Regions from separate parts of the Homo sapiens genome. Here region 2 is linked to region 1. A link means that fine-mapping ties the variant in region 1 to the expression of a gene that starts in the linked region. Tissue or cell type: tibial nerve. Region 1 holds a variant in brackets; the other region holds the start of a gene. All regions are shown on one strand. Distances are from middle to middle.

Region 1 (4,225 bases):
ACACGTGAACACCCTCTCACAATGTGTTGTCTCATCAACTGCAAGAATTGTATTGTCCAAATTACTGGATTAAGGATTGACATCAACATTTGGGTAAAATGAAGCCCTCACAGCCACTAGAGGATTCAGAGGATAAACACTCTAAATGGCTTAAAATATGTTTTATAAATACAGTTAAATACAAGGTTCACCCAATCAGCAAATGTTTATTGGACACCTGTTATATGCAAGGCTGTGAATATCAGTGGGAAGCCATTTCTGGAAAACATTTGCTTCCAGAACATCCAATCAATATATGTATATATTTTTGAGATGGAGTCTCACTGTCACCCAGGCTGGAGTGCAGTAGCTTGATCTCGGCTCACTGCAACCTCCACCTCCTGGGTTCAAGTGATTCTCCAGCCTCAGCCTCCCGAGTAGCTGGGATTACAGGTGCCTGCCACCACACCCAGCTGATTTGTGTGTGTGTGTATTTTTAGTTGAGACAGGGTTTCACCATGTTGGCCAGGCTGGTCTTGAACTCCTGACCTTAAGTGATCCGCCCACCTCGGCCTCCCAAAGTGGTGGGATTACAGGCGTGAGTCACTATGTCTGGCCCAGAACATTCAAATCGTATTACAAATTTGTTCTTTAATGTAACACTTCTCCTGAGATGCCATCTTCTTTACTTAGAAACCGCAGCTGAGACAGAGGTTCCCCTAGGGTATGTATTAGCTGACTGTGTCCCTTTTTGAAAACTTTCACCGCCGCTCTACGGGCTTGAAGTGTTTTTTTTTGCAAATACATTCTCCATTGTTTGGTTTTTGCAAGACTCCACATAAATTTTCCCATAGCTGCTTTAGCTTCTACAAATGATCACACTCCCTCTCCCTCCTTGGACCTTGGGTTACTTTTGTACCAGACTTGCCGGGGTGGCCTGAGAATGAGATATAATTCTCAGATAGGGCTGTGTCCCCATCAGCAGCTCCAGGGGGGTAGAGGACCTGGTAGAGGTCAGTTCTTTCCTGTTGAGAGCAGACTCTGTCCAGGAGTTACAGAAATGGATATTTCCTGATGATGTGACCCAGAAAGAGTCTCCTCCTTCCTGGGACGAGGTGAGGAGGAAAGGGAAGTGGGCTTGGGACTCAGCAGACCTGGATTCAAATTCCAGCTCCTCCATGCCTCAGCATGGGCCAGATTTCCTTATGCAAGTGATAGCAGCTTCCTATCAAATGGGAGGAGTAGCAGCGTCTGCCTCCTAGAGTGTCATGAGAAGTAAATGAGGTGTGTGTGTATTGTGGATTCTGTTGCTGCCTCACCAGAGTCCTGCTCATCATTCAGCTGCTGTGAGTGTTGGCTGCTAACTATTCACAGCTACTCTTTCTTTGGAAAATTGGAACTGTGAACCCAGGAGAGGATAGAAGGGGAGGTCTAGAAACCGATATCCTTATCTCAAGGAGTGACCAACTCTGCAACTCCTCATGGGCTCCAGCTAATCCAGCCAGACTCCAGCCACCAAGGCCAAATCTTTACTCAGCTCCTCCCCTGTCATGTCCTGCCTCCCTCCCGCCCTTCTTCTAAGAGCCCTCTTCAAGTCACTTTCACAGGCATCCCCATCTCAGGCTGTACTTCAGAGGAAGCTAAACTAAGAGTATGTAAAGAACCAGAGTCAGAAAAACTAGCTATGACTTATTATTTTTTACCATATATAATGCTTTGGTCACACAAGAGCTTCTGTTCACCTCTTGCGCTCATTTACAACTTGGTGTTTTTGTATGCATTGTTTCCTCTGATGGGAATCCCCTAGTGTTTTTCAACCAACAAATGCCTATTTGTTCCTTCAGGGGCACTGCAAATGTCACCTCCTCATCACAGCCTTCCTGGCTGTGTGTAGAGTTTTCCACTCTCTTAGCTCTAAATACCACTTCTGCTAAAGAGCTCAC[A/AT]TTTTTTACAGGAATTATTGAAAGAACTTGTGTGTGTGTGTGTGTGTGTGTGTGTGTGTGTGTATTAGAGTCAGACTGAATGACATGAATGACATCAGATTTGCAGTCTTAAAAGCTCTCAATGACAAGAATGAATACAGGGAGACCAAGTTGAGAGGGTTGGTAATAGGCCAAGTAAAGGATCAAGATCTAGATTGTGGCAGAGGGGATGGAAAGAAGTAGATGCATTGGAGATAAAGTTAGTGGGTCTTGACAGTGATGGACATAGAGGGAGAGAGAAACGGAGGGGTAAAGGATGACTCCTAGGCTTCTACCATGAGCCCATTTTCAGGCATGGTGGTACCATTTTCTGAGTTGGGGAAACCCTGGGGATTTGCAGGTTTGATGATGCCAGACTTGGATGTGTTATATTTGAGATGCTCATCCACATGGAGATGTTCAAGTAGATAGATGATGGTACAAATCTTGAGCTCATAAGAGAAGTAAATTTGGAAATCTTCAGCCCATGATATCAAAACCTTGGGAGTGAAGGAGATTTATGGAGAGAGGGAAGAACGAGAAGAGCAGAGGACCAATGACTCTGAGATGTTGAGCTCCAACATTTGAAGGCAAAGTAGAGGAGGAGAAGACTGTGAAATAGATTAAGAAGGAGTGGTTTGAGAAGTAGGAGGAGAACTTGGAGTCTTAGAAACCACGGGCAGAGTAATTCAAGAAGAGAGGGGATCTAGGTGAAAAGGATGTTGGATCCACAGTTCCTTAAAATTTATCAAAGGATAAATAAAATCCTTTGATAATGGGATCACATCAAGTTAAAACACTTCTGTACAGCAAAGGAAACAATCAACAAAGTGAAGAGACAGCCCACAGAATGGGAGAAAGTATTTGCAAACTACCTGATGAGATTAGTAATCAGGATATATAAGGAGCTCAAATGACTCTATAGGAAAAAAAATCTCGTAATCCAATTAAAAAATGGGCCAAAGATTTGAATAGACATTTCTTAAAAGAAGACCTGCAATGGCAAAGAGGCATATGAAAAGTTGCTCAATATCACTGACAATCAGAGAAATGCAAATCAAAACTACAATGAAATGTGATCTCACCCAGTTAAAATGGCTTATATTCAAAAGACAGGCAATAACGAATGCTGGTGAGGATATGGAGAAAAGGGAACCCTCGTACACTGTTGGTGGGAATGTAAAATAGTATAACTACTGTGGAGAACAGTTTGGAGGTTCCTCAAAAAACTAAAAATAGAGCTACCATATGATCCAGCAATCCAACTGCTGGGTATATACCCCAAAGAAAGGAAATCAGTATATTGAAGATATCGGCACTTCCATGTTTGTTGCAGCACTGTTCACAAAGCTAAAACTTGGAAGAAACCTAAGTGTCCATCAACAGATGAATGGGTAAAGAGAATGTGGTATTTATACACAATGGAGTATTATTCAGCCATACAAAGAGAATGAGATCCATTTGCAACAACATGGATGGAACTAGAGATCATCATGTTAAGTGAAATAAGCCAGGCACAGAAAGATAAACATTGCATGTTCTCACTTATCTGTGGGGTCTAAAAATCAAGACAATGAACCCATGGAGATAGGGAGTAGAAGGATGGTTACCAGAGGCTGGGAAGGGTAGTGGGGCAGAGGGGGGACATGGGGATGATTAATGTGTACAAAATAGAATGAATAAGATTTAATGTTTGATAGTACAACAAAGTATAGTCAATAATTGCGTATTTTAAAATAACTGAAAGAGTATAATTGGGTTGTTTGTGACACAAGGATAAATGCTTAAGGGAATGGATAACCCATTCTCCATGATGTAATTATTACTTATTGCATGCCTGTATCAAAATGTCTCATGTACTCTATAAATATGTACACCTATGTACACACAAAAATTAAAAATAAAAAATGATTTGATAAATGTTAAATCAAACATTTAAACATACTCAAGGGAACCATAAAGGCACCAGCAAAACAAACCTTAAGGTATACTTTACAAGTTTGGTGTGGGGAAGGCATTTCTACTATTTAAAGCCTCAGAAGAAAAGACTTAAAATTGGACCATAAATTAACATAAAACTAAATTAATATAAATATAAAAATTAACATAAAATCAACATATGACTTTTGTATGGCCAAACCAGCATAAGTAAAGTCAGTAGACAAAAGTTGGGCAAGAATATTTTCAACTTACACCATAGTTGAAGAACTAATCACCCTTATACATGAAGACTTGCTAGAGATCAGTTCAAAACCCTGGTAGAAAAAAAGGAAGGAGATATGAAC
Region 2 (4,225 bases), 64 kb before region 1:
ATCCCTTCCCGAGGGGAAGAGTGTTAGACTCTACTTCTTGGGAAAGGTGTCAAAGAATTTGTGGACATGTTGTAAAACAACAACCCTGTACTGACAACAAACAGAAAATAAAATAAAGAAGCCATTCATAATAGCAACAAAAAACACCCGGGGCTAAATTTAATAAAAGATGTGCAAGGTCTCCACGTAGAAAACTACAAAACATTGCTGAGATAACTTTTTTAAAAACCCAAAATAAATGAAGGGACATACCATGTTCATGGATAAGAAGTTTTACTATTGAAAATGTTAATTTTATTCCAATTGATCTAAAGGTTCAAAGTGATACCAATTGAAATCCCAGCAAGATTGTGTTAGTGTGTTTGTGTGTATATATATAAATAGGTATGCTGATTCCAAAATTTCTGTGAAAGTGTAAACATCAAGAATAGCCAATGCAGTCTTAAAAGAACAAAATGGGTAGGCTTATTTCATGGGACATTTAGACTTATAAGCCCACAGTAATCCAGACATTGTGATAATGGCACAGGGAGAGAAAAATAGGCTAACAGAACAGAATAGAGAATTCAGGAACAGTCTTATGCACATATCGACTACTTGATTTACGACAATGTTAGCATTGCAGAAGAGTATGTGTGTGTGTGTAGGGGGGTGGTGGTGGTGGTGGTGATCTTTTCAATAAAGAGTGCTGGTCAGTTGGATATCCAGATGAAAAAAATGGACACAGGACAATGGAAATTTTTTTCTGATGAGGTGTGGCATTGTATTTCTAGAAACAATGACTGCTGAAATTTATTTGGAAGTTCTTTCCTTTCTGAGCTATAATTTCCCTCTGTTGTTCCCAAGCCTTCAGTGAATGCCTGTTTCCCACACCTATCTTTTGTTAATGCATCTTTCTTATGGTCCTAGTTCTAGGCCAGGACCAGCAAAGCCCAAGCAGCAGTTGAGAACTAAGTTCTAAGCTAGCTCCTGAGTGGGCAGGAAGCTCAAGTCCTTTTCTCCCAATGGCATCCTATATCCTGGTGCCACACAAGAATGCCATTCTGGCTGACTTCGCCTCCTGGCCTCTCCCAGTCAGACATACCTGGAGCAGTCAGTGAGCAGTGAGATTGCTAGGGGAGATTGCTAGTGTAGACAATTCTTGCATGAAAAGGGGGATGGGGGTGCAACAGTCTAGCAACCAGCAAGTGATATCAAGAACTAGAGGGTTTTTTTTTTTTTTTTGGTTGGGGAGGAACCCCATTTCACAGTCACCTTTCTGACCCACCATCAGAGCCATCCCATTCCAATCTCATTTTCTTCCTTTCCTCACTCCAAGAGACCGTGACTGTGGGCAGATCCTAGACCCCTCTTCAGAGCTTCGGGCTCTAGGCATTCCTGCGGCCCTCCCCTCCCTATCATTAAAAGGGGTGGGGTCCTGCTGCCTTCTCCAAGTGGTTTCAGCTCTGGATCCTTTGGGGGCAACGGAGCCCACCCGCCTGGAGCTCCATTACTGATGCTGCAAGTTTTTGACTCAGTTTCCCCATATGTGAGTGAGAGTTTAAGCGCGGCAATCTCCAGGGGGGGCTGTCAAGCTGACTCAGATCAGTGAGACGAGGAGGGGGCGGGCATGCTAAGAGCATCCTCCGGCGCTGGCCTGCGTCCCCCCAGGTAAGGCAGCACCCATCTCCAAAGTGGTCCTGTCACCACCTTCCTCTTCCCCCCGCACCCACGCCGCGGGGCGGGGACTAGCGCCGCCTCAAATATTTAGGGCAAGGGAGTGTCCCACTTCTGGGGAGGGGTGCCGTTCGGGCTTCTCTCCTCACCGTGGGTGGCGAAAGGCGGGACGGAAAAGCGCCGTCTGGACAGGCGCGCCCCCCTCAGGGATGCAGGGCCGGGCGGGGGACCCGGCGGCGGCCCAGCCCGGAGGAAGGACCTCCACGCCCCGGCCCGGGCCCCCGGGCCCCCGGCCCTAGGCAGCGCCCGAGGCCGGAACAATAGCGCGCGCGGGCGGGGCGGGGGCGGGGGCGGGGCGCTCCTCTGGGCACCGCCCCCGGCCCGCCCCCCGCGCTCGCAGTCCCGCTCGCACACTGGCTCCCACCCGCCGCCCGCCCAGGCACTGCCCGCGGGAGCCGCCGCCGCCGCCGCCGCGCCCGCCATGGACGTCCGCCTGTACCCCTCGGCGCCCGCGGTGGGCGCGCGGCCCGGGGCCGAGCCGGCCGGCCTGGCGCACCTGGACTATTACCACGGCGGCAAGGTAGGCGGGGGCGGGCGGGGGTCCCCGGCGGGCGGGGCCGGAGTCACCTGGCAGCTCGGGACTCAGGCGCTCCCGGGGTCACACGGGGCCGCGCACATCAGCCCCGCCGACGGGCACGGGCGGCTCACATCGATCCCCTCGCGGCCACGCTCACGCCCTGAGTTGTTGGGATCGCGGGCAGAAGTCATCCCGACAGCCACCCGTGCGACGACACAGTGGCCCCTCACTCGCGTCCCCCTGACAGCCTCGCAGTCATTCACAAGCCGTCACAGTGACCCACAGCCACACGCAGGCGGCCAGGCACTGCTTACACGGTCCCGCCGTCCCACGCAAGTCACCCTGACAGTCACTTATACACAACGACACGCAACCACTCACCCGCAAACAGCCTCACCGCCACAGACGAGTCACCCACAGACGCTCCGATGCCCCACACACCGTGACATGCCCCCACCCGCTGTCACACCCAGGCACAACGGGGGACAGTCACACAAAGAAGTCGCCCGACAGTCACACTCTCGCAGCCACAACGCCTCACCCAGGCGCACGCTGTCACACACAGCCACCCCCCTGGACGGTGAGCCTCAGACACAGATCGTCCTGACGGCCACACAGTCACACGCGGTCACACCCAGGGACGGCCACACCTCGGTCATCCACACTCGCGCGTCGAGGTTTAACTTCTCAGCGCCGCAGCACACTAATTGGGCAGTTTACTAATTGGCCGTCACTGCCTGGCGGGGCCTCGGATTCCGAGTAGGCTGCGGCCAATCGAGGCCTGTGTCCTCCCGGGAGCGGTGAGCCGGCGTCCCTCCAGGCTGGGGCTGTAGTGCCGGACACCCTCCCTCCTCCATGTTTCCAGGATCTATCCCCCCACCCCAGCCAGGTCCCAGCTGCGCTGCGCCGGGCGCATTCCCAGTGATGGAGGCTTGCGTGCCTGGAACCCCGAACCCGAGGCGTCAGGTCCCACTGCCGGGTCTGGCCCAGCCTGGATGGGTTGGGTGCCTCTAAGCAGTCCGCGTCCCCTTCGGTCGCCGGAGAGGGAACTTTCAAACTTAGTTAGGAAGCCAGACTGTCCGCGCGTCCGCCAGTCGGTGCGTCGGTCCCGGGCCGGCTGGAGCCAAGCGCGGGTTTTCGTCACTCGGAGCCCGGATTGAACAGCGCGCGTGGGTTTCCCGCAGCCCTGGCGCAGACGCGTGGGCTCCGTGGCGATGCGGGGTGAGTGCGCGTCCAGTGGCTGGATCGGCGCCCCCCAGGGTCTCTCCCCAACCTCGCAGGCTTTTCGTCAGGCCCCTGGTAGTGGGGATGAGGCAGGAGAGAGGCGTCCCGGCGCGGATCCCGGGGCCTCCCGGGCTGGGCCTCCCTGAGTGCGCCCTCAGGCCCCAGGGGAGCGGCTTCTGGCAAAGCCTCCCTGCAGTTCGCCAGGGGCAGCAAGCATCCAGGCCACTAGGGCCTGCGCGATGTGGGGCGGTGGTGGGCGACAAGTGAGGTCTCGCGAAGAGTGGCGGTGGTTCTCTTTTGTCCAGTGACCTGCAAAGTTAGAAGCCGATGAGGGGGGATGGTAGCCTCAGGAGAAGGCCGGGAGCTGCCTCCAGTCTGATGGAGGAAAATAGATTAAAAGTAGCAAGTGGAGTTTTCAGGGAGGAGAAGGTTGGGTGTGGGGGCAGCTGGTCTGTCTTCTGCCCTTGGCTTTGTTATTTTTCAAAATGTGAAGTTGGCGAGGTAGGTACCAGCCTCTGGTTTGCGGGTGTGGGTGGGCTGGGCATTTGTGCCTCAAAGTCTGAGTGGGTGGGGGTTTAGCCTGGAGCGCTCCGTTTGAGGGTGGTGTTTCTATAAATCTCGCCAGGGTGGGGCTGTCCCAAATAGGGGCCTTTGGAGGCAGGACTCAGCCGAGGCCCCTGCTTTATTCTGATGCTCTGTAAACCTCTGACTCAGCACCAGAACCTGTGCGAATCTCGCCGGGAAGGGCCCGTCAGGGAGGGAATGAGA

What was found. PIP is the estimated chance that this variant, and not a neighbour inherited with it, causes the effect.
Region 2: it holds the start of TOX2, and the variant in region 1 is fine-mapped to the expression of TOX2 in tibial nerve (GTEx, PIP 0.93).

What each region holds. Positions count from the first base shown.
Region 1 is chr20:43,976,814-43,981,038 of GRCh38, forward strand. The region is part of intron 2 of TOX2 (TOX high mobility group box family member 2); the gene reads left to right. Among named protein-coding and RNA genes, the nearest start is that of TOX2, 64 kb to the left of the region's middle. The variant A/AT (reference allele first, on the strand shown) is at 1,923.
Region 2 is chr20:43,912,755-43,916,979 of GRCh38, forward strand. TOX2 (TOX high mobility group box family member 2) reads left to right here and starts at 2,098. Exons shown (of 9, transcript NM_001098797.2): 1 at 2,098-2,236. The coding sequence starts at 2,138. RefSeq lists silencers at 1,749-1,868, 1,969-2,068, 2,089-2,198, 2,249-2,338, 3,409-3,468 and 1 more and enhancers at 1,835-2,552, 2,553-3,270.